Linked DNA regions of Homo sapiens. The protein of the gene in region 1 purifies or fractionates together with the protein of each later gene. This does not show direct contact. Each region holds a gene or a part of one and is shown in the gene's direction. Other genes may lie near its edges.

Region 1 (4,198 bases):
AGCACCCAGAACGAAAACCCACTAGCTGCAAGAGAGGCAGGGAAACGAAGGCTCTGTCCTGGGCAGCTGTGTCCAGATAAAAGCCAGAATGGATATTGGGGAACAGACAGCCGTCCCTGCCCCGCCTGCTAACCCAGGGCTTCTGGGGGTGGGACACGGATGATTCCACTTCTTCTGGCCTGTGGACCAGTGTTTGGGCGCCACAGGGATGAAGTGTCTGTCGAACCTGAGATTCCGAGCCCAGGCATATAAGATGCAAGACTGAGAGTCCACAGTGCTATAACATTGAAATTAAAAGTCAGTGGTACCCGGTTCAAAAGAGCTGACTCCAAGATCCCAGACACTCATATCCTCAAGACTCTATAAATCTCTGATTCTGAAACGTGAAGGTGCCACAGAGCCTGTGATGCAGTGATTCCAGACCATCTGGGTTTCACTCTAGGAAGGCTTCTTGAAGGAGCAAACATCTGTCCTTCTCCTGCCCAGAGCTGCCAGGTCACAAGGACAGAACCAAGACTCTTGATACCTCTCTAAGTAGCAGGAGGGACAGCTGGGGCTGGGGGCTGGGGGGTTGTAGGGCACTAGAGTTTCTGTCCCCAGGCTAGATTAAGGCGAAGGCTCTGCTGGATTGGGATATGAACCTGGAATTTGATGGGAAATGCTAAGCCCTCTCTGCCTCCGGAGTTGTCCTCCCACCCTATTCAGCCTACCCAGGCCCCGGGAAATCCAGCCTCTTCTCCAGGCTCCTAAATGATGAGGTTGAGCCTTCACCCCTCCCCACCACCGCCTCTGCTTGCAGATTCCCAGCGGCATCGGGTCACAGATGAGGAGGTCCAGCAAAGCAGGTTCCAGATGCCACCCTTGGAGGAAGGTGAGTCAGGATGGGAAGGGGTGTGAATGGCAGTCCCACCTCCAGAGAGTAGCTCAGCTCAGCTTGAGACCTTCCAGCAGGAACCTCCCTCAATGAGTCTTTCCTGACTTTCACAAATCCTATAGGCAGTAAGTGCTTTCTGAAGTCTGACTTAAAGCCCTCTTGCTGCACTGCTTCTTTCGTCACCATTCTCCCTTTCCTGCCTTAGGACTTGAAGAGTTGCATGCCTCCCACATCCCAACTGCCAACCCTGGACACTGCATTACAGACCCGCCATCCCTGGGCCCTCAGTATCACCCGAGGAGCAACAGTGAGTCGAGCACCTCTTCAGGGGAGGATTACTGCAATAGTCCCAAAAGCAAGCTGCCTCCATGGAACCCCCAGGTGTTTTCTTCAGAGAGGAGTTCCTTCCTGGAGCAGCCCCCAAACTTGGAGCTGGCCGGCACCCAGCCAGCCTTTTCAGGTAAGCTGTGCCTCCCCCAAACCCCCATCCCATAGCCAGCCTGGCTGGAGGAGGCATAAAGCTGGGAGCCCTGAGTCAGGCTGAGGTCAGGATTCTACCCAGTTCCGCAGCCATTCGCTGTGTGCCCTTGGACACATCTCCCATCTCTGGGCCTTCACTTTGTCATTTGCCAAGCTAGGGACTTGGCTCTCGTGAGTCACGTGGGCCCCCCAGCTCTGGCAACTTGAGAAGTGGCTGTGTGCTGGCAGAGGGTGACTGGTTCTGGGGGTTTCCAGCAGGGCCCCCGGCTGATGACAGCTCCAGCACCTCATCCGGGGAGTGGTACCAGAACTTCCAGCCACCACCCCAGCCCCCTTCGGAGGAGCAGTTTGGCTGTCCAGGTGCCAATATCTGGGGAAGGGATGTGGGAGGGGGACAGAGAGGGACTGGGGAGTAAATGAGTGGGGAACTATTGGATGCATTCGCTCAAGGGGAAAAGGAGAAAGGAAGGGTAAAAGAAGAGAGGGAAAGTAACTTTTTAAAAAACAAAGCAAGGCCAGGCATGGTAGCTCAAGCCTGTAATCCCAGCACAAGGCAGGAGGATTGCTTGAGGCCAGGAATTTACGACTAGCCCCGGGAACATAGCAAGACCAGTCTCTACAAAACTAAAAACTAAATATTAGCCAAGGGTAGCACGTGCCTATAGTCCCAGCTCCTCAGGAGGCTGAGGTGGGAGGATCGTGTGAGCCCAGGAGATCCAGGCTGCAGTGAGCTATGATCGTATCACTGTGTATCATGCCCCTGCAGGGTCAGAGCAAGACCCTCTTTCTACAAGAAAACAAACACAAGCACAACAAGAATATGAAGAGGTGGGGAAAATGGATGTGGACGGGATGGAGAAATAGTCAAACAGGTTGCTTTGATAAGAAGTGAGCTCCCTGTCAGTGGAGGCATTCAAGCAGAAGCAGCTGGTTGGCTCCTTGGGGGAGACTGTGGTAGCAGAGGGGCTTCCAACATTCAATCGTCCACCGTGTCGTGCAGTGTGCCATTGTGGAGACCATAGCCCTGAACCAGACAGACGAGGCTATTCCCTCAGTGCTGATGTTCTAGTCAGGGACATGGCCGGAAGCAAGATGATCAGATGGCTTCATGCAGCATCCCACGGGGATAGTGATGTGGAGCCAGAACCACTCAGCTCCGTCCTGTGGGGCAGCAGGGCAATGACTGGGTCTCCCACTAATCTGGGCCTCTCTGCCCACAGGGTCCCCCAGCCCTCAGCCTGACTCCACCGACAACGATGACTACGATGACATCAGCGCAGCCTAGGCCGGGGCCAGCCGAGGCTCCTGGGGTGGCTCTGACCCTCTGGCCTCCTGCTCTACCTACTCCCTTTCCCCTTTCCCACCCTCCCAGCTCACCTCCCCATGGAGCTGAGAGGCCTCCCTTGGAGAGATGGAAGGAAACGTTATACCTTGTACCCCTCGGTCTCCATCCATCAAGCCAAACCTGCTGCCACAGCCCTCCCCCGGCCCCAGATAGCAGCCCCAGGGAGGATGCTGCCTCCAAGAGGTGTGAGCCCTCTGTCTCGGGGATGAACAAGCAGAGTCTGGGCTACCTCTTGACAGCTGGTGGAGGGGAGTTGGGGAGCTGGACTGGATGACTCTGGAGGCCCCTTCCAAACCTCAAGTGTCCGGCGCTTTGATTGCCTGAGTTTCTGACACTTCAGGGCCCAGAGGTCCTGCGAGGGGCAGAACTGGACCCCCATGCCAGTGCTGCTGCAGGAGGGCCCATATACTAGGGTCTGCTGAGCTGTTGTCACTGATCGGTGGGCGCTGGGGGGGTAGGGTAGCACACCAGCTGTCCCAGGCTTTGCTCCGGGCGGTAACTGCACTTGGGCAGGGAATATAGCCTTCCTGGGCACAACTAGCTGACAATGACAGGTTGACTGTGTACCCCCAACCAAGGAGCTGGGGCCCAAGGCCAGTCCTGCCCCAGAGACACTCCAAGTCCGCCAGGGGCACAGACCAGTTCTGCAGTGACTGTCCCTGGACAATGGGTCTTTATTCTGAGTTTCCTATGGTTTACAAAGAGGGCCCCAGCCCAGCCCCACCACAGATCCCAGAGATAGGGGCCCAGTCTCCATGGGGGCAAGGAGCATAGAGATGTTTTCCAGGAAGGGGCTCAGAAGCTGCACTAGGCCCCGAGTCCCCATGTGTCTCCTTGAATTGATGAGGATGCTCCTGGGAGGGATGCGTGACTATGTGGTGTTGCACCCGGGGCTGCAAACGTCTCCGTGCAGCCCCCAGAGAGAGGCCCATGGGCTCAGACCAGGCTTTGTTGTCCTGCTCTGAGTATCCTGAGATTAAACTGAATTGCTGAATGAAACCAGGGCGTGGAATGACAATTTCTTAAACCTCATAGAACCCAGGCTGCATGTGTGTGTGCACGTGTGTGTGGCATGTATGTGCATGTGTGTGTGTGTGTGTGTGTGGCATATGTTGGATACAAATGAGACAAAGAGTTGAGCTCAAATCTTTTATTTGGGAAGTAATCCCAGGGAGCAGCAGTAAGAAAATGAGGAAGAAAGAGGGGGAAGGAAGGAAGACAATGTTCATGAACAGGTTGCTATTATGGGCAGCCAGAGCTCAATGGTGCTGGGGACCTCTGGGAGACACACCTCAGAATTGTCCCACCAAGGGGGCAGGGAGCTGGGATATTGACCCACCCTCTCTGCCTGTCATTGGTTGAGGAGACATTAACCCCCAGCCCCAGCACTACCGAGCGGCCTGTGAGTGAGCTGGGCACACGCTGTGTCGGGAGAAGCCACAGGCAGAGGGTCAGAGGCACATGCTATAAGGAACCATCTTCCATGGGAATGGTCCAGG
Region 2 (3,500 bases), on another chromosome or scaffold:
AGTTCTTGACAAGCCCTGCCCTCTGGAGAAATTGCTTCACCGGAGCCTCTCCTGCAAAGGGTTTATCGCAGCCCCGCCTACCCGGAGCAAGGGAGATGCCTAGCTCCAGCTGGTTCTAGCTTTCAGCATTGGGGAAGGGAGATGATCAGCTGCAGCTTCTGCTGGCCATCCTGGCCAACTGAGGGCGTGGGGATGGGAGGCACTGGTGCAGTTCACAGTCCAAAGGCACAGGCTGGCCAGAAGGTTGAGCCTGCTCACAGGCGCGTGCTCCCCAGCACCTCCCACCACATCCCTAAGGGCCTGTTCATTCCAGCTCCTTTTACCTAGTGCAACGTGTCCGCCTGCCAACAAAAAACGACAAAGCATGATGACCTTTTTTTTTTTACTTTACCTTTTACCATTTGCTTTAAAATACTGAAGCATTAAGTATATATAACTGTAAGTTTTTAGGTTCATAGGTTAATCAGATCAACATCCTATTTTTAGAGATTTCTGAGTAAATCAGGGAATACTCATTTGTAAGCCTTTATAGTGATTATTATGTTTGAAATTTGTAAGTATTTAACTTTTACTGTCTGTTTCCTGTATGCTTATATTTTTTGAATACAGAAAACATGCTCTCAGGGAGATGATAAGCAACTCATGCTGAAGAATTTTTTTTTCAGAGCTTCCAAATATTCTACTTTCATATCCGTTTGACTCAACATCTTTAAAGAAATGGATAATGATGAAAGACTTCAAAAAGTGTTAAGGATTAATTTGAAAGAGAAGTTATATACCCTGAATAGAAAAATTGAAGAAAGAAGAAGCTAGATATTTGGAGAAATTTAAAAAGCAAAATGAGGCTGGGTGCAGTGGTTCACGCCTGTTAATCCCAGCACTTTGGGAGGCCAAGGTGGGCGGATCACGAAGTCAGGAGTTCAAGACCAGCCTGACCAACATGGTGAAAACCCGTCTCTACTGAAAATACAAAAAATAGCCAGGCATGGTGGCATGTGCCTGTAATCCCAGCTACTCAGGAGGCTGAGGCAGGAGAATCACTTGAACCCGGGAGGCAGAGGTTGCAGTGAGCCGAGATCGTGCTGCTGCACTCCAGCCTGGGCAACAGAGCAAGACTCTGTCTCAAAAAAAAAAAAAAAAAAAAGCAAAATGAAAAATAGTAAAAGCAGAGTAGGATATTATTAGACAAAGACTAGAATATTGAAGAACCTCAACTTAAACATGAAAGAAATATTTCATTTGCCCTTTTCACCAGCATGTCATCTCTGTCAATGTTGGTTCCTATAAAAGACTTCAGTAAATACATATTTATACTGATTCTTTTTTTTTTTTTTTTTTTTTACTTAGCTGTCATATTGTCTTCTCGAACCCAGATGTAAGGACATGCTTCTTTAAGAAGCCATATAGGCCCTTCTTTGGAGATTCTCAGATTCATTTGAAGACCTGAGTCTGTTCTTTATCTAGAATGGAAAGGTTGGTGGGTGGTGAACCACACACGCCCTTTGTACTGATCACCTTACTCTGTACTGTGTGGCTGCTCCAGAAATGGCGAGTTCACTCACCAGTTCATTGGTCAGTTGTAGGGTTGTTCACTAAAGAACATTGAAAAATTGGGAAAAATAGAAAAAAAAATAGGAAGAAGGGAGTATAAAGTTCAGAAAAGCAATCATTTGGGATAACATAGGAGAAATGATTTTACAATAAGTAAAAAGAAGAAGATCCAAGTTAGGATCTACAAGGGAGAATGAATACAACCTTGGAATGAATGAAAATTAACTGAGGATGAGTAGGAAGTGATGTATCTTCTGTTGTCTGTGAATAAGAGGTATTAAATCACTGTGCCAGGACAAGCACCAAGATAACATGTACAAACATGGTTTCTGTTCTTTCCTCCCTGATTTCTCTGTCTTGGTTTTATTTTGTTTATTCATTTTTAAGAAATATATGAAATGTATTGTTTTGGTGTTACCCGTTTGGAAACATAGATTTATGTAGAAGAAGGTATTTCATGTAATTATAAATAATGTCCTGAAGATAAAAGGAAAAGATAATAATGCTTTTCTTTTGGGGTGGGAAATTATTCCAGGCATAGCCCTTTTGTACCTGCAGTTGTACCGGGTCACATGTGACCAAACCTACCTGCTCCGATCCCTGGATTACGTAAAAAGAACACTTCGGAATCTGAATGGCCGCAGGGTCACCTTCCTCTGTGGGGATGCTGGCCCCCTGGCTGTTGGAGCTGTGATTTATCACAAACTCAGAAGTGACTGTGAGTCCCAGGAATGTGTCACAAAGTGAGTTTTAGAACTGGAAACATTTTCTCCCAATTCCCAGTGGAAGCTCTTGCTGTAGAAAGATATTCAGAAAGGAAACTATTTTTCCATTCATCCATTGTTGTAAACAGATCACTCCAAAATGTTAATCTTGAGCATAGTGGTGGGATCATATGCCCTCTTTTTATCCAAGCATGTGTGTGCCTTAATTTTGGGAAGAATAAATATATTTCCTTATTTTAACCATGTTTCCTAAGCAATTTTTTGTTTTCTTCAATGCATGAAAATTAGCTTACCTGCTTTAGATTCACCATAATAACTAAACTGATGTTAGGTTCAACCCTTAAGTAACTGATTAGATATGCTAATGATGGAACAATTAGGGAATGTAAGCTTTTATTGCACCTATTGGTTTACGTTCTTCCTTGAAGAAGCAGAAATCACGGTTCATTCCTAGGGTCTGGTAGAGTATCTGGCACGTGCTAGTCAGTTAATGTTTGTTGAAAGATAGGATGACGCTGGGTATAGTGGCATGTGCTTGTAGTTCCATTAACTTGGGAGGCTGAGGCAGGAGGATCACTTGAGCTCAGGAGTTCAAGGCTGCGGTGAGCCATCATCCTGTCACTGCACACCAGCCAGGGCAACAGAGCAAGACCCTGTCTCTAAAGAAAAAGAAAGAAAAAAAAAAAGACAGAATGACAGTCTAATTCCCAAGCATTGGTGACATTGCAGTCCTTTTTTTTTTTTTTCTGAGATGGAATTTCGCTCTTGTTGCCCAGGCTGGAGTGCAATGGCGCGATCTCAGCTCACTGCAACGTCCGCCTCCTGGGTTCAAGGGATTCTCCTGCCTCAGCCTCCAAAGTAGCTGGGATTACAAGCATGTGCCACCACACCCAGCTAGTTTTGCATTTTTAGTAGAGACGGGGTTTCACCATGTTGGTCAGGCTGGTCTTGAACTCCTGACCTCAGGTGATCCACCTACCTCGGCCTCCCAAAGTGCTGGGATTATAGGCGTGAGCCACCGTGCCCGGCCTGCAGTACCATTTTTATTTAAATTTTAAATCACTTTCTTTTACTTCTGGATTTCAAAATAAAATTTTATGGTTTAAAATAGATGTAAAGGTAGAAATTAACAGAAAGATGTTTTGTTTTTAATTTTGACATTCAAAAGGGGACTAGTAAACTGGAGACGTTTTTGTTGTGTTCTGGATTTGGGAGTATTTTTAA
Region 3 (3,500 bases), on another chromosome or scaffold:
CTCCTGGGCTCAAGTAGTCCTCATACCTCAGTCTCCTGAATGGCTGGGATTACAGGCACATGCCACCACGGTTGGCTAATTTTTAATTTTTTATAGAGATGGCATCTCACTGTGTTGTCCAGGCTGGTCTGGAACTCCTGGTCTCAAGTGATTCTCCTGCTTTGACCTCCCAAAGCGTTGGGATTACAGGTGCAAGCCACCATGCCTGGCCTCCCTTGAGTGATTTTCTAATGGGCTATGCACAGAGATTGCACTTAACCCATATTTAGAAAAGAAATAATATGTTCAATATTGTTTAAACCTATGGTTCCTATTGCGTTGTATCATATAATAATAGTTTGGGAATGGACAGGCATTTGCGTTACCAGGCAACCAGAGCTGTGCAGTTTTCCTTCCTCAGGTATGATGTGGAACTCTTCCAGCGCATAGAACACTTAATTGGGAAGAAACTACCAGGTTTTCCAACACAGGATGATGAGGTTATGATGCTGACAGAACGCGTCGCTGAAGCCCAAAGGTTTGCCCGAATGGTATGCATCTTTCTTTTCTCACCAGTGTCTGTGCAAACAATGTTAACTGTGTGCCACTTTATTATATTAACCCTCATACTAAACTGCAGAAGCTGGGTATTATTTTATTCCAAATTTAAGACGAGCAAACTAAGGTGCAGAGATGGTAGGTAATTTGCATTAGACCATACAACCAAATGGTTGAATCAAGGTTTGGCCTCATTCTGACATTCACACATTCACAGCACCTGTTCATGTGTCGCACGTGGTGAGATAGTTCATCAGACTTGAGGTCAGAAGATCCAGCTGTGAACTGTGTGAGCTTGGGAAATTTGCCTGATTTCTCAGAATCAGAATCAGTTTCTCACCTGTAAATTGGGAATAACACTTGCCTGAATACCTTATGGGGTTTTATGAGCACCAGAGAAGCCAATATAAACTACATAGTTACTAGTAGGGGTTGATCATACCTAATCCAAAAATTTGAAATCCAAAACCAAGATCCAAAACTTTTCTTTTTTCTTTTTTTTTTTTTTTTTGAGATGGAGTTTTGCTCTTGTTGCCCAGGCTGGAGCGAATGGTGCAATCTCGGCTCACCACAACCTCCGCCTCCCGGGTTCAAGCGATTCTCCTGCCTCAGCCTCCCGATTACAGGCATGTGCCACCATGCCCAGCTAATTTTGTATTTTTAGTAGAGATGGGGTTTCTCCATTTTGGTCAGGCGAACTTCTGACCTCAGGTAATCCCCCCGCCTCGGCCTCCCAAAGTGCTGGGATTACAGGCTTGAGCCATTGTGCCCAGCAATCCAAAATTTTTTGAGTGCGAAAAGGATTGCCGCAAGTGGAAAATTCCATGCCTGACCTCGTGTGACAGGTTGCTATCAAGACACAGTCAAAATGTTTTTAATGCACAAAAATATTAAAAATATGATGTAAAATTACCTTCAGACAATTAAAAATATTGTGTAAAATTACCTTCATATATAAGGTATATATGAAACAAGTGAATTTTGTGTTTAGAGTTGAGCCCCATCCCCAAGATAGCTCATATGTATCTGCAAATATTCTAGAATTAGAAAAAATCTGAAGTCCGAAACACTGCTGGTCCCAAGCATTTCAGATAAGGGATACTCACCCTGTAAGTAGTAGTAACAGTAATAGTGGTGATGAGAAGATTCTAGAGGAAAACCATTGGAAGTGCTGCCTGCTTTCTGGAGTTCTGGTCTGAGGGATGGAGAAACTTTGCCCATAGTTTGTTTTTGGAGTAGCTGAGGTGCACATTTGGTTTTTATTCTGTCCACATGGGATTTTTTTGTTTGTAAAAGTATTACATGTGCATTGGGAAAAAAATTCAAAAAATACAGAAAGGATTAAAGTAGTAAGTGAAAAGGTAAACCATTCCCCACAGAAAACCATTGATAACATTTGGCTATTTTTCTTTCTTTAGCCATAATTAGACTTTATCTAATTATATAGGATTAACATTTTTCTGTTTCAACAAATACAGATTCATGTGATCGTTTCTTAATGGCTACAAAGAATTCCATCATGTGTATGAAATACTTACATTCATGGATGCTTACGCTTTTTTCCAGTTTCTTTCTACTTTGGTACAGTGTTAAACACCCTACTTTGTACAGCTTTGCATATTTACTTCCTTAGAATAAATTCCTAGAAGTACACTTGTTGGGCCAAGGGACATACACAGTTAAAATTTGAATTCATACAGAATGCCAAATTGTCCCCCGCCCCAAGAAAAGCTATAGCAGATTGCACTATAAATGAGAGTATATGTGAATTTTTCTACACCTTGGCCAATACTGGGGATTACCCTTCTCTTAAGTCTTTGCCAATCTGCCATGTGAAAATAAAACCTTACTTTAGTGTTCACGTTTTGATTACTAATAAGGTTAACATCTTTGTATATTTGGAGTTGGGTCTTGTTCCTTTGCTAATGTCAGGCATCAGCAAGTTACTTGATACTTGATCTTAAGGAGAGGGGACTAGAATGAGTAACCTTCAGTGCCAGTAATTCATTTTCAATCCCATCCTCTCTTTTTTTCTTGCAGGAGTTAAGGGAGCATGGAGAAAAGAAGAAACGCTCGCGAGAGGATGCTGGAGATAATGATGACACAGAGGGTGCTATTGGTGTCAGGAACAAGGTGGCTGGAGGAAAAATGAAGAAGCGGAAAGGCCGTTAATCACTTTTATGAAGGCTCGAGTTCTGCTGTTCTGTAAAAGAGAATTGGAGAATGAAACCTGCTCCAACAGAGATCATGAGACTGAAATTGGTCAGAATTGTGTCCAGAATGTGCTCAGCTAATTCAGTATTCTTCCCCATTCTGGGTTGGAGTTTACTGCAGAGTAATTCTTACAGTGCTGATGTCAAGACTGTTACTGTTCTTCGACTTTGATTCCTTGCTCATGACATGAGTAGGGTGTGCTCTTCTGTCACTTCACACAGACCTTTTGCCTTTTTTAGCTGCAAGTCAAGGACTAGGTTGATGATGCCCATGACCTGTAATTGTAAAGAAGCTTGGACATCTGCAAATGATATTTAAACCATCTTGGCTTGTGCTTTATTCAAACTAATGTGAAACAATAAATTTAAATATTATTTTTAAAAGATTCTAACTCCTTAAAGACCTTGGTGTTAAAGGGCCTTATAGATTTAAGTAAGATCTTGTTAATAGGTAAGAACCTGACAGTGTTGATTACATGGCAAATTCATTGGTTGTCCTAATTAAGATAAATATTTATTACTTAAAAAAATCAACAAGGAAACGAGATGATGGATGGCTTTGAAAGGGAAGCCCCAGCCGGGTGTGGTGGCTCACGCCTGTAATCCCAGCACTTTGGGAGGCCAAGATGGGCAGATCAGGAGGTCAGGAGATTGAGACCATCCTTGGTAACACCGTGAAACCCTGTCTCTACTAAAAATACACACACAAAAAAAACATTAGCCTGGCGTGGTGGCGGGCGCCTGTAGTCC
Region 4 (3,500 bases), on another chromosome or scaffold:
TAGAGATAATATGGATCAGTCCAGAGTTCTCCTCTGGGTGAAAGCAGAACCCTTTATAGTGGGTGCCTTGCAGGTCCCCCCTCCATCCAAGTTTAGTCTTCACTATCTCAGGAAGATATCCACCTATGTGCAAATCCGGGCCACAGAAGGAGCTTACCCGCGCCTCTACTGGTCTACATGGAGGCACATCGCTTGTGGGAAGCTGCAGTTGGCCAAGGACCTGGCGTGGCTTTACTTCGAAATATTTGATAGTCTTTCAATGAAGACACCTGAGGAGCGCCTGGAATGGTCTGAGGTTCTGTCCAACTGCATGTCTGAGGAGGAAGTTGAAAAGCAGAGAAATCAGGTACGGATTGATATGTGTGTATACTTAATTACTTTTGGAAAGAAACCATTCTTTTTTAAATTAAAAAATGTTTTTGCTTATTACAATTTTTAGATAGAAACAGAGTTTCACTTTGTTGCCCAGGCTGGTCTTGAACTCCCGGCTTCAAGCAGTCTTCCTGCCTCGGCCTCCCAAAATGTTAGGATTACAGGCATGAGCCACCATGTCTGGCCCAATAAACCATTCTTAATTTTTGTATTAGCTGTAAAATTTTAGGTTTTAGGCTAATGGCCATTGTAATCTCAAGTTATCATTTGAGTTTTAGTAGTTCCAGTTTGGCAGTATTTCATGTATTCAATGAATTAGTCCTTACTTACCAGACCTTACTCACCTACTCCCAAAGCAGTAATGTTACAGAGACCCTGTTATTGAAAAAGGGAAATATTTTACTGACTTTAAAAAGATTTTGGGGTGAATGAGTGTTATGAACAACTGATATGTTACAGTCAGAGCACCTGACTATTTTAAAATGAACATCTGCTACATGATGGGATTCAAAGATGATTAGGATAGCATCTCAACCCTCATGGAGCTTATGGACTAGTAGAGGAAGCTGGTATTAAAAAAAGATGCTATTTAATAGTGTGATATGTATAATAAAAGAATACACAAAGTACAGAAATTGAATAAAGAATGATTTATTTCAGTGATAAGGAAAGACTTCACAGAGAAAGTATATTAATCAAGTAGGCTGATTATAGTAATAGACAACCCAGTATTTCAGTGGCTTAGAACAGTAACAGTTTATTTCTCATTCAGGCAGCAATCTAACACAGTTGCTCCTGGTTGGACAAATCTCTGGGCTGCTGTCATCCAAGCGATGACCAGGGATCCATGCTTCTATCACTTGGAGTCACTGTTAATCAGCTTTGTTAAAAGCTGATTTCATTCATTAAGAACAAACAAATGAAATTCCAGTGGCTTACAGGGGAAAAGGTTTATTTCTTGCCCATTTTACATGTGGGCTTCATTTTTGCTATGGCATTTGTCCAGGCTCCGTGTTTCCCCATTTAGGGACACAGGCTAAAGAAATAGCTTCTGTGTAGATCATTCCCATTCTTATAACAGAAGGGAAGATCAACAGAATGGAGGAAACTCATGATGTCTCTTTTTAAATTCTTATTTTATGTATACAGCTCAATCAGTTTGGGGATAAGTATATGCTGTGAAACCATCATGACCGTCAAGGACATAGACATACCCATCACCCCCCATAGGTTCCCCCTCCTCTTTTATGCTTGTTATTTTGTGTGTGTATCTGTTAAGAACACTTAACATAAGATCTACTGTCTTAGAGAATTTTAAGTATACAACATGTAATTGTTATCTCTAGGCGGTATGCTGTAGAGTAGATCTTCAGAACTTAATTTTCTTGCATAACGGAAACTTTGTAGCCTTTGACCATCAACCTCCCCATTTCCCCCTCCTCCTAGCCCTTGTCAGTCACCCTTCTGTCTGTTTTTATGAGTTTGACTATTTTAGATTCCACATATAAGTGAGATTACATAGCTTTGTCTTTCTGTGTCTGGCGTGTTTTACTTAGCATAATGTCCTCCAGGTCCATCCATGTTGTTGAAAATGGCAGGATTTCTCTCTCTTTCTGTTTTTAAGAGACAGGATCTCACTCTGTTGCCCAAGCTGGAGTACAGGGATGTAATCATAGCTCACTATAGCCTGGAATTTCTGGGCACAAGCAATCCTTCCACCTCAGCCTCCTGAGTGGTTAGGACTACAGGTGTGTGCTATCATGCCTGGCAAATTTTTGTATTTTTTTCATAGAGGTCAGGATCTCACTGTGTTGCCCAGGCTGGTCTTGAACTCTTGGCCTCAAGTGATCCTCCCACCTCAGCCTCCCAAAGTGTTGGGATTACAGGCATAAGCCACTGTACCCAACATGATTTCTTTCTTTTTTAAGGCCAAATGGTACTCCATTATATATGCATGCCAAGTTTTCTTTATCTAGTCATCCATCTGTGGACATTTAGGCTGCTTCCATATCTTGGCCATTATCAATAATGCTGCAATGAACATGGGAGTGCAGGTATTTGCAGGATCCTGATTTCAATTCCTTTGGATAAATACCCAGAAGTGGGATTGCTAGATCGTATGGTAGTTCTCTTTTTTATTTTTTGAGAAACCACTATACTATTTATTTATTTTTTTTTTGAGACGGAGTCTCGCTCTGTCGCCCAGGCTGGAGCGCGGTGGCGCGATCTCAGCTCATTGCAAGCTCCACCTCCCAGGTTCACACCATTCTCCTGCCTCAGCCTCCTGAGTAGCTGGGACTACAGGCACCCACCACCATGCCCGGCTAGTTTTGTGTATTTTTTAATAGAGATGGGGTTCACCATGTTAGCCAGGATGGTCTCAATCTCCTGACCTCATGATCCGCCTGCCTCGGCCTCCCAAAGTGCTGGGATTACAGGCGTGAGCCACCGCGCCCGGCCCTATTTTTTATAATGGCTGTACCAGTTTACATTCTCACTGACAGTGTACCAGGGTTCCCTTTTCTTCACATCCTTACTAATACTTGTTAATCTTTTGTTAACAAGTGTGAGGTGATATCTCATTGTGGTTTTGCTTTATATTTCTCTAATGAGTAGTGATGTTGAGCACCTTTTCGTATACCTGTTGGCCATTTGTATGTCTTCATTGGAGAAATGTCTATTCAGGTCCATAGTCCATTTTTTAATTAGGTTATTTGGTTTTTCTTGCTATTGAGCTGCAGGAGTTCATTATATATTTTCGATATTAACCCCTTACCAGATACATGGTTTACCTTTTCTTCTGTTGATTGTTTCCTTAGTTGTGCAGAAGCTTTTTAGTTTGATATAATTCAACTTATTTTTGCATTGGTTGCCTGTGCTTTTGGTGTCATATCCAAACAATCATTACCAAGACCAATGTCAAGGAGCTTTTTCCTTATTTTTCTCTAGGAGTTTTACCATTTCACCCCTTACATTTAAGTCTTTCCTCCATTTTGAGTTGATTGTGTATGGTATAAGCTATGGTCCCAATTTCATTCTTTTGCATTTGTAGATCCAGTTTTCTCAGCATCATTTATTGAAGAGACTATTCTGCGTTTTGTATTCTTGACACCCTTGTGGAAAATTAG
Region 5 (3,205 bases), on another chromosome or scaffold:
AATCCTCAGACATGCAAGCAATCCTTCCTCAAGGAAGAACTCAAAATTATGAAAATGTTCTCAGAGAAAACAGTTAACATCTAGTTCCAGGGTTCTTAATTGAAGAACAAAGAGCCCCTCAGGATATCCAAAAATAGATTTTCAGTGCTCATTGAATCCTCTGAAATTGTGTGCAAACATTGTATAGACAAAGCATTTTTCTGGGTGAAGGCTCAAAATCTCATCAGATTTATGTCGTGGTTTCCGAAGATAGTAATGATGACATGCTTTGAAAGCTAATGTTTTACATTTACTCAGAAGGCTTTCATGAGGTTATGACATGGGCAGATGATTTAATAAGACAGTTATGGTTTCATGTGAAACTCCTTTGCAGAGAGATGCCCATACACACTGATGGGCATGCTGAGTCCCTGGTCTAGGTGTGTTAAGGTAGGGGTAGGGGCTTTGCCTTCCCATCTTGATTCCCTCCCATGGAACATGCATAAGCTTCTAGCTGTTGCCTAAGCATGAGGAGTCCCATTGTCTTTCTTAGGAGTCCTTGAAGAGTTTTAAACAGCCATTTACATCACAGATATTGATCTGCTGTTAATGAAATTGTACCTGCATTGGTATACTCATAATGGTTGTTCTGAAAGGTATTATTATTTAATATGTCACTGAAATAGTTTGTATTATAAGAAAAACTGCTGTCTATGGGGTTTCTGTATTAGCATTCTGTTTGTGTTTATGTAGGGATTGGCAAAGCACCATACTTTAGAAAGTTTATAAGTTTTTACTGAGTTATCTTCTTATTAACTCTTGTCTGAGGGTTACTTGGTAAAATTTTCTTATCCTATTAATACAAACTGTATAAAACTTAGTTTCTAAACTTCTTTCTTTATTAGGCCACTCCATGTCCAAAAGAACCAAATAAAGAGATGATAAATGATGGCGCTTCCTGGACAATCATTAGCACAGATAAGGCAGAGTATACATTTTATGAGGGAATGGGCCCTGTCCTTGCCCCAGTCACTCCTGTGCCTGTGGTAGAGAGCCTTCAGGTGAGAACGCCTAGTCCAAGTTGGCCTTCAGCTCTTTGCAGCTACTCTCAGCTGTGACCTGGCATCATTTCATTTCATGGGAGTTTTGATTTTTCTCCAATCGTCTGATTAGGGGATTTTTATATACACCATTTGTTGATTTAAAGAAAAAAAAACAAAATTAGGAGGAGCGTACTTGCCAGAAAATTTAAATGTAAATAAACTTGTATGTTATCTTGAAATGTTTTTAGCTAGCTTTGTAATAAAAAACATTTTAATTGCCCTTTTTTAAAAAAAACAAATGAAAGTTGAATGAGAATCTAATTTGTGTACTTTAATGAAAAATGAAAAGTTTTCTCAGTGTTGTGATTTTCTGTGAATTGCAGTTGAATGGCGGTGGGGACGTAGCAATGCTTGAACTTACAGGACAGAATTTCACTCCAAATTTACGAGTGTGGTTTGGGGATGTAGAAGCTGAAACTATGTACAGGTACTTGATAAAACTTTTTGCATCATCCAGAGGTTGTGAGGGGTGTGGGTACAGGAGATTCTTTCCTGGCACTGATTGTAATGTATTAAACAACCTTGTGTTAAGTCTCATTTTTAACATGTACTTTGCTTTTTAAAGTGTTTTTAAGTGATTTCTATTTCCTCCTCAGGTGTGGAGAGAGTATGCTCTGTGTCGTCCCAGACATTTCTGCATTCCGAGAAGGTTGGAGATGGGTCCGGCAACCAGTCCAGGTTCCAGTAACTTTGGTCCGAAATGATGGAATCATTTATTCCACCAGCCTTACCTTTACCTACACACCAGAACCAGGGCCGCGGCCACATTGCAGTGCAGCAGGAGCAATCCTTCGAGCCAATTCAAGCCAGGTGCCCCCTAACGAATCAAACACAAACAGCGAGGGAAGTTACACAAACGCCAGCACAAATTCAACCAGTGTCACATCATCTACAGCCACAGTGGTATCCTAACTACCGTCTTTTTGCTAGGACTTAAACTGACTTGAGTGTGGCAAAAAGTTAACAAAAAAGGAGAAAAAATGAACAATCGTTTGTGGTTTCTTGGGAAAACTTTTCATACCAGGTGATACTATTCAAAAACCCCGTTGTCTCCCTGCAAGTGCTGATTTGAAATGCAGAAGCCACAGTAAAAAAAAAAAAAAAAAAAAAAAAAAAGAAAAAAAAATCAAAATGTATAAATATTGGAAATCAAGTTTTTCAGCTGTTTTGTTGGTTGGTTGGTTGGTTTTTGTTTGGTTTTGTTTAAATGGGCAAGAAGTAAATAATGTGGCTGGAATACAAGTTGAACAAACTAGAAGACACAAATCTAACATAGTTTTTATGGACCAAGGAACTTGTATATTGTATAAGCTTTAGTAAAAGGTACATTTTCACCATACCTTTTTTTATATCACGGTATTATAGTACACCTTGTTACCAAATAGGTTGTTCTCTTCCCCACCCACCTTTGAGCTTTTGCTCTAAAATACATTCAGGTTCCAAGCCTGACCATCCTTGTTTAATCTATCATACTCTTCCAGGTTTTTTTTTTTTGGTCTAAGGCTGGAACTTTTTTCTTTTTTTTCAGCTGAAGTCTTATGACTTTTCATGAGTCAAAATTGTTTGGATTTCAGCAAGTCAAATCTTGCAAAGGCCTGCATATTTTTTTTAAGATTATATGAAGTCTGTGCAAAAGCTTTAAAAAAATGCCTCTGCCTTGCCTGCAATACATGCAATGTATGTTAACTTAGTCTCTCTTCTCAGACACTGTTGGTAGTTATTTCTGTGTTTTCCTTTTTTTAAAAAAAAATATGGACTTATTGTGGTTATCTGAGAGGTTCTAACATTCACATGCAATTTGGTGTGGCCATTTAGCTATTAATGAGTTAATGGCGCAGAACTTGTTGATATTTGAAGTGTTCTCTCCCCTTTTCCCATGACGTAAATACATAGGTGTGTTCCAGGATTTGTTCAGGTTTTTCCCCCCTCCTAATCTTGTACATAACTTGTATTATGTGTAAGTTAAACATTTTATTTTGAACTTGGAATGTTCCCAGTGATTTCATTCAGCAGGGTATTTTCTGCCTTGTTGGCAAGTGACAAAAAATATGGGAAGTATTTGCTACCAGTTGGTAGATGGTGCCCTTAATGGTAGAATGAGGAAAATGTCCGCAAAAGCATGT
Region 6 (3,500 bases), on another chromosome or scaffold:
AAACCTTTACTGAGCTGGGAATCTGGTTCAGTCTGGGATTGTCAGGGACTATTTCAGGGCAACAGAAGGGGACTGGCTTTTCTTGTCATAGGTCACAAAGGCAGAGAGAACCACACCAGCATCACCAAGATGGCCAGGAGTGGAAAATGCAGACATTGAGCCTAAAACAAGAAGCCATTTCCTTGGGAGCACTGTGATGGGGGCCGCGCTCACTCACTATATGCCCAAAGCCTCTGGCCTGGGTGGCTGCTGTTCAGTTGAGAGTGTAACCAGCTCCTGTTTTCCCTGCCAGGGCTTGAGTCCTGTGAGAACCTTGGGAAGAGAGAAGAGATAATGGGTAGTTTTAGGGGATAGAATACCCCTTCCTCCTACCAAATGTAAGAGAAATCCACCCCCGCAACAAGATCTTCTCAAACTGTTTTGTGCTCTGAAGTGTCTAAAGATAGGGGAGCTTTTCAGCCTATTCTAGACCCAGCTCCTTCTCAGAGGAAAAGAGAGGGAGCTGGCCAGGGACTACTCCCATGCCCCCTCAAGAAGAGCAGAGAGAGTTTCTACCCCATCATTCCACAAAGTCAGAACAGCTAGAACGGAGGCTGAAGAGACTGAGAGCAGCTGCAGAAATCCAAAAATATTGACCTTATAAGCTCAAGATGCTGTATGCTGGGTTTTTACAAGGATATTCGGTATTTGATGAAACCCAGTTAGGCATGACATATTCCCCTTCTCCCCATTCCTACCTCTCTTTTATTAAAAATTTTATAGTTACAGTGTCTATGTTGCCCAGCCTGGTCTTGAACCCTTTGGCTCAAGTGATCCACCTGCCTTGGCCTCCCAAAGTGCTGGGATTACAGATGGGAGCCATCGTGTCTGGCCCATTCCTGCCTCTTAAAGCCCTCCACCCAACAGGCAGACTTGAGACTCAAACCGTGGTCCCAGCTCTGCATCAGGGGTAGTTTGGAATTCAGATTCTTTCAAACTGGGGTAAAAACCAGGCCCAGAGTTCAGAGTTCAACAACAAGCTTCCAAGATGCCGCCCAAAGGAAAAAGTGGTTCTGGAAAAGCGGGGAAAGGGGGTGCAGCCTCTGGGAGTGACAGTGCTGACAAGAAGGCTCAAGGTCCCAAAGGTGGTGGCAATGCAGTAAAGGTCAGACACATTCTATGGGAAAAACATGGCAAAATCATGGAAGCCATGGAAAAGTTAAAGTCTGGGATGAGATTCAATGAAGTGGCCACACAATATAGTGAAGATAAAGCCAGGCAAGGGGGCGTCTTGGGTTGGATGACCAGAGGGTCCATGGTGGGACCATTTCAAGAAGCAGCATTTGCCTTGCCTATAAGTGTGATGGATAAGCCTGTGTTTACAGACCCAGCAGTTAAGACAAAATTTGGATATCATATTATTATGGTTGAAGGAAGAAAATAAAATCATATGAAAGACTGAAAGAAAAAAAAAAAAAAAAAAAAAAACTAGGCCCAGGACACCAAAGGCAAGAAAGGCAGAATCTTTAACAAATTAGGGGCTGGGTGCGGTGGCTCACACCTATAATCCCAGCACTTTGGGAGGCCAGGAGTTCTAGACCAGCCTGGCCAAAATGGCAAAACCCCGTCTCTACTCAAAATAAAAAAATTAGCTGGGTGTGGTGGCAGACACCTGTATTCCCAGCTACTCAGAAGGCTGAGACACAAGAATCGCTGGAACCCGGGAGGCAGAAGTTGTAGTGAGCTGAGATTGCACCACTGCATTCCAACCTGGGCGACAGAGTAAGACTCCATCTCAAAACACACACAAACTAGGCCAAAACCGTAAGCAAAAAGCAAAGAAAAACTCTTCTAAAATGGCCACTGTGATTTCTGTGCCTTCTCTTGTTTCATACATACATATATATATATATATATATATATATATATTTTTTTTTTTTTTTTGAGACAGTCTTTCTCTGTTGCTCAGGTTGGAATGCAGTGGTGTGATCTTGGTTTACTGCAGCTTTGACCTCCCAGGCTCAAGCAATCTGCCCCCCTACAAAGTAGCTGGGACAACAGGCATGCACTACCACACCTGGCTTCCTCCTCGCCCCGAGGCAGAGTCTTGCTCTGTCACCCAGGCTGGAGTGCAGTGGCACGATCTCTGCTAACTATAACCTCTGCCTCCCAAGTTCAAGCAGTTCTCCTGCCTCCCCTCCTGAGTAGCTGGGATTACAGATGCCCGCCACCACACGTGGCTGATTTTTGTATTTTTAGTACAGACGGGGTTTCACCATGTTGGCCAGGCTGGTCTCGAACTCCTTACCTCATGATCCGCCCGCCTTGGCCTCCCAAAGTGCTGGGATTACAGGCATGAGGCACCACGCCCAGCCTTTTTCTTTTTTTTAAGATGGAATCTTACTCACTCTGTTGCCGAGGATGGAGTGTAATAGTGCGATCTCAGCTCACTGCAACCTCCGCCTCCCGGGTTCAAGCGATTCTCCTGCCTCAGCCCACCAAGTAACTGGGATTACAGGCATGTGCCACCAGGCCCGGCTGATTTTTGTATTTTTAGTTGAGATGGGGTTTCACCACGTTGGCCAGGCTGGTCTGGAACTCCTGACCTCAAGCGATCCACCCATCTCGGCCTCCCAAAGTGCTGAGATGACAGGTGTAAGCCACCATACCCGGCCTGTCGTCTTCTCGATATATCAAAATAGAGTGCAGTGGCTACTGCTGCTGGTCATGTGGGTGTGCAGAATGGTACCCAATAAAACACAATGGGTGCTACTGGAAAGCAAAGGGTGCATTGGGACACAGCCTACTCATGTTCCTTTTGCCTTTCTAGGCCTAGAGTCCTTACGGGACAGTGCCCATTCCACACCAGTGCGTTCCACTTCCCATGGGGACACCTTCCTGCCTCACGTGAGAAGCAGCCGGACAGATAGCAATGAGCGAGTAGCTGTGATTGCAGACGAGGCCTACAGCCCTGCAGACAGCGTGCTGCCCACCCCTGTGGCTGAGCACAGCCTGGAGCTGATGTTGCTTTCCCGGCAGATCAATGGAGCCACCTGCAGCATTGAGGAGGAGAAGGAATCTGAAGCCAGCACCCCAACTGCTACAGAGGTGGAGGCCCTTGGGGGAGAGCTGAGGGCCCTGTGTCAGGGGCACAGCGGGCCCGAGGAGGAACAGGTGAATAAGTTTGTTCTAAGTGTCCTCCGTTTGCTCCTTGTGACCATGGGACTCCTCTTTGTTTTGCTCCTCCTCCTGATCATCCTTACCGAGTCTGACCTTGACATTGCCTTTTTCCGTGATATCCGCCAGACCCCCGAGTTTGAACAATTCCACTATCAATACTTTTGTCCCCTCAGGCGATGGTTTGCCTGCAAAATCCGCTCAGTGGTGAGCCTGCTCATTGACACCTGAGAAGGCATGACTCCTCCCAAAAACTAGCCAGGTGGACCAAGGAACCCGGCTACCCATTCCCAGCAATGGGACCCATCGCGGAACCATCGGCACATATACCAAGTCCTCCTCTC
Region 7 (3,500 bases), on another chromosome or scaffold:
ACAACTCCACTGGCCAGTCTCGGGCTGTGATTGCAGCGGCAGCTCGGAGGCGGGACAACAGTCACAATGAGTACTACTATGAGGAGGCTGAGCATGAGCGAAGGGTGCGCAAGAGGAGGGCCAGGTGGGTCCCTGGGGGAGAAGAGGAGAGGAGGTGCTTGTTGGGTGAATGGGGAGAGGAAGACCAAGGAACTTCTGTAACTGCTGGAAATATAGGGCAATGATGACATGAGTTGGGGGTGTGTGCTTGTTTTCCGTTGCTGCCCTAACAGATTACCATAAACTTAGCAGCTGTGAAACAGCACACATTTATTATCTCCCAGTTCCATGGGTCAGGTGCAGGCTGGCTGGAGGCTGTGCTCAGGCCTCACAGGCTGAAATCAAGAGGACTCTCATCTGAGCCTATGCTTTCTCTTTCAAGCTCATTATTATGGGGAGAATTCAGTGCCTTGTCACATAGCCCCATAGGCAGTTTACATGATGGTAGTGCACTTTTTTTTCCAGCAGAAACAGGTCTCTGACCTCTGCCACCAGCTGGAGATAATGCTGATTTTAAAGAGCTCATGTGATGAGATCAGGCCCTAAAGGACAGTCTTCTTTTAAGGCCACTGACTTGGCACATTAATTACATCTGCAAAATGTACCAAGATTGTTGTCTAATGAGGGGATGGGAGTCTGGTAGAAGTGGAGGGTATCTTTGAATTCTGCCTGCCACAGTGGGGTAGGGACCCAATAAAGGGATGTGAGCTTTACCTGCAACAGCATGGACTCAGGCTAGACTAGCCTGCCTGCCAGTAGATCTTGAGAGGACTCACCAGATGGTGCTTTTGTTGCCTTCAAAAAATGACGTTTTATTGCCTATATTTTGGTAAATTCTTAAATGCCATCCTAGCTTCTCCCTTTCCCTATTCATATTATTAAGTGAATTTAGTCAACCCTGAAGAATCTTACTTGGTGCCTACTCTGCCGGGTTCCATCTTGGTCTGTCGGGAGTTCCCTGAGGGAGGAGCAGAGTGCCTCAGGACTTGACCACGCACCTGGCCTCCGCCCCATCTCCCACATGAACTCCAGGCTTCAAGGGCAAGAGGTAGCCCTTACCTTGTTCCTATTTGAGGCTGGCATCCCCTGTAGTAGAACAAAGATCACCAACTCCATTTCTGTGGCATTCCAACCTGTCTCTAATTGTCTTGGAAATGGCCTGAGACTTGGGAAGGAAACCAGTGATGTCCCTACCCCTTTATCTTCTGCCCTGACCAGGGTCATCCAATCTCCTGTACTGCCACCACCATTTTTGGCACATAGAGGACTCTTTCCTTTCCCCATTACCTTGCTTTTAACCAGGAGCAAACTTTTTCCTTTGTTTACCTGAGATAAAAGGATCTTTTCAAAGGGAATTTACTGAGAAATGTAGGGGAAGCAAGAGAATAAAGGAAGAAATGATAGACATACACAGATCCACACCTATATACCCAGAGTCCCATCTGAAATGACTCAGGTTCCTGGGTTCTGCATAGAAGGCCTCACTTTCTTTCTTTGTCCTGTCACTTCAGGCTGGTCCTGCTCTTAGGCCAGGGGGCTTTTATTTTGGTTTTTGGACTTGAAGTGCAGATAATTGCATTAATTGCTCTTTTCAGCTTCTAACATATTGTCATTATAGAGTTTTTCATGGTTCTTTATTCTGTTTCTTCTTTTCCTCCAGTTCCCACTTTCACTCCAGCGCCACATTTTAGGCATCCTGTTGAGTGTGTTTGACTTCCTTAAAAGCTATATGTATCCTTGTGCAAAGTTAGTGTTAGTGTAGTGATCTTTGTTGGTGTTGGTGTGTGTGTCTGTATGTATGCTTTTTTTTTTTTTTTTATTGAGATGGAGTCTTGCTCTGTCCCCCAGGCTGGAGTGCAGTGGCATGATCTCAGCTCACTGCAACCTCCGCCTCCTGGGTTCAAGTAATTTTCCTGCCTCAGCCTCCCCAGTAGCTGGGATTACAGATGCACACCAGCATGCCCAGCTAATTTTTGTATTTTTAGTAAAGATGGGGTTTTGCCATGTTGGCCAGGCTGGTCTTGAACTCCTGACCTCAGGTGATCCACCTGTCTCACCCTCCCAAAGTGCTGGGATTATAGGCATGAGCCACCACACCCGGCCATCTATATGCTTTTAATGTAAATGGATTTTTTTTTCCTGCTTCCTCCTTAACACTGTGTTTTTGAGATTCATCCAAGTTGTCTGTACATCTAGTTTGTTGCATCTTTTTGCTGCATAGTAGTTCATGGAATACTCCCAACATCCTATCCAATATTTGGTTTATAGTTACCTTCTTTCTTTTTTCCATTTTGATGGAAAAGTAATATTTTACTAACATTTTCATTTGCATCTCTCTAATTGCTAGCCAGTAACTACTTCGTATATCTTTTAGCCTTTCAGTCCTCTTGTGAATTTTCTGTTCACCTCCTTTGCCCTTTTTTCTCTAGGTTTCCTGTCTTTTTCTTCTTGATAGAAATTGTAGCAAATTCTTTGCATGTTCTAGATCTGAATCCCTTGTTGGTTTTAGATGTGTATATTTTCCCCAGCTCCATCAGATGTCAGTTAATGTTGCCCATGCTGTCATGGTTGAACAGAAATCTGTCATTTTGATGTAATCATATCTATTAATTGTTGAGCCAATGAAGTATGATTTGGGGGTCTTATTTAAGAAGGTTTTCCTTAAAGTTTGGTGGAATGCTTTGTCTTTCCTATAGCATAGTTCCTAGTTGTCTCTCTGGGTTTGACACTAGGTTTGCCCTCTGAGTCCCTGGGCTGGGCCCACTGAACTCTGTGGCTGTTTACTGTTCCCAGTGGCAGAAAGGCACTATTGCCTCTGGCTTTGTATTACTTTGGGTGAGCACAAAGGCCTGACCTCATTCAGGCTGCTGGAGTGTTGGAGCTAGGGGAGAGGGGTGGGGTGGGGGAAAGAGAGGTGGGCATCTGGCCCAGTCCCCTCCTGTCCCCTAGGCTTGTAGTGGCGGTGGAGGAGGCCTTCACTCACATTAAGCGGCTGCAGGAAGAGGAGCAGAAAAACCCCAGGGAGGTGATGGACCCCCGGGAGGCAGCCCAAGCCATCTTTGCATCCATGGCCCGTGCCATGCAGAAGTACCTTCGGACCACCAAGCAGCAGCCCTACCACACCATGGAGAGCATCCTGCAGCACCTTGAATTCTGCATCACGCATGACATGACGCCCAAGGTAGGCCTGCCCTGCTGCCAGCATCCTTCCTCCTTCCCCAGCTCCTCTTCTTTCCCACCTTCATTTTCCCTTATTCTCTCACTACTTTCCTCACTGTCCACCTCATTTCTCTCTCCTCACCACCTCCTTTTTATAATCTTCTCTCTCATTCCTATTCCACCTGCCCCATCTGTGTGGGGTGAAGTCTTTAGGTAGATGAGGAGAAGGGAGTCCTCAGGACCATTTTGGGGATGGCTGAGACTTATTTCTCATCTCTATGAGGGCTCCGGAATTACCAGAT

The links.
Region 2: the proteins of CD6 (region 1) and LANCL2 purify together in Homo sapiens (affinity purification with mass spectrometry; one large-scale study listed by BioGRID and IntAct). This does not show direct contact.
Region 3: the proteins of CD6 (region 1) and DDX47 purify together in Homo sapiens (affinity purification with mass spectrometry; one large-scale study listed by BioGRID and IntAct). This does not show direct contact.
Region 4: the proteins of CD6 (region 1) and TBCCD1 purify together in Homo sapiens (affinity purification with mass spectrometry; one large-scale study listed by BioGRID and IntAct). This does not show direct contact.
Region 5: the proteins of CD6 (region 1) and RBPJ purify together in Homo sapiens (affinity purification with mass spectrometry; one large-scale study listed by BioGRID and IntAct). This does not show direct contact.
Region 6: the proteins of CD6 (region 1) and FRMD5 purify together in Homo sapiens (affinity purification with mass spectrometry; one large-scale study listed by BioGRID and IntAct). This does not show direct contact.
Region 7: the proteins of CD6 (region 1) and VANGL2 purify together in Homo sapiens (affinity purification with mass spectrometry; one large-scale study listed by BioGRID and IntAct). This does not show direct contact.

The regions. Positions count from the first base shown.
Region 1 is NC_000011.10:61,016,680-61,020,877, forward strand, and holds the end of CD6 (T-cell differentiation antigen CD6 isoform 1 precursor), read left to right. Parts: intron 1-799; coding exon 800-871; intron 872-1,079; coding exon 1,080-1,334; intron 1,335-1,609; coding exon 1,610-1,714; intron 1,715-2,574; coding exon 2,575-2,639; 3' UTR 2,640-3,698; downstream 3,699-4,198.
Region 2 is NC_000007.14:55,396,337-55,399,836, forward strand, and holds part of LANCL2 (lanC-like protein 2), read left to right. Parts: intron 1-2,086; coding exon 2,087-2,294; intron 2,295-3,500. UniProt on the Homo sapiens protein: Necessary for abscisic acid (ABA) binding on the cell membrane and activation of the ABA signaling pathway in granulocytes.
Region 3 is NC_000012.12:12,826,846-12,830,345, forward strand, and holds the end of DDX47 (probable ATP-dependent RNA helicase DDX47), read left to right. Parts: intron 1-400; coding exon 401-530; intron 531-2,577; coding exon 2,578-2,709; 3' UTR 2,710-3,136; downstream 3,137-3,500. UniProt on the Homo sapiens protein: Required for efficient ribosome biogenesis. May have a role in mRNA splicing. Involved in apoptosis.
Region 4 is NC_000003.12:186,560,840-186,564,339, reverse strand, and holds part of TBCCD1 (TBCC domain-containing protein 1), read left to right. Parts: 5' UTR 1-10; coding exon 11-346; intron 347-3,500. UniProt on the Homo sapiens protein: Plays a role in the regulation of centrosome and Golgi apparatus positioning, with consequences on cell shape and cell migration.
Region 5 is NC_000004.12:26,429,014-26,432,218, forward strand, and holds part of RBPJ (recombining binding protein suppressor of hairless), read left to right. Parts: intron 1-884; coding exon 885-1,040; intron 1,041-1,405; coding exon 1,406-1,509; intron 1,510-1,678; coding exon 1,679-1,994; 3' UTR 1,995-3,205. UniProt on the Homo sapiens protein: Transcriptional regulator that plays a central role in Notch signaling, a signaling pathway involved in cell-cell communication that regulates a broad spectrum of cell-fate determinations.
Region 6 is NC_000015.10:43,873,772-43,877,271, reverse strand, and holds part of FRMD5 (FERM domain-containing protein 5), read left to right. Parts: exon of another isoform or gene 1-1,466; intron 1,467-2,809; coding exon 2,810-3,387; 3' UTR 3,388-3,500. UniProt on the Homo sapiens protein: May be involved in regulation of cell migration. May regulate cell-matrix interactions via its interaction with ITGB5 and modifying ITGB5 cytoplasmic tail interactions such as with FERMT2 and TLN1.
Region 7 is NC_000001.11:160,421,064-160,424,563, forward strand, and holds part of VANGL2 (vang-like protein 2), read left to right. Parts: coding exon 1-124; intron 125-2,988; coding exon 2,989-3,220; intron 3,221-3,500. UniProt on the Homo sapiens protein: Involved in the control of early morphogenesis and patterning of both axial midline structures and the development of neural plate. Plays a role in the regulation of planar cell polarity, particularly in the orientation of stereociliary bundles in the cochlea.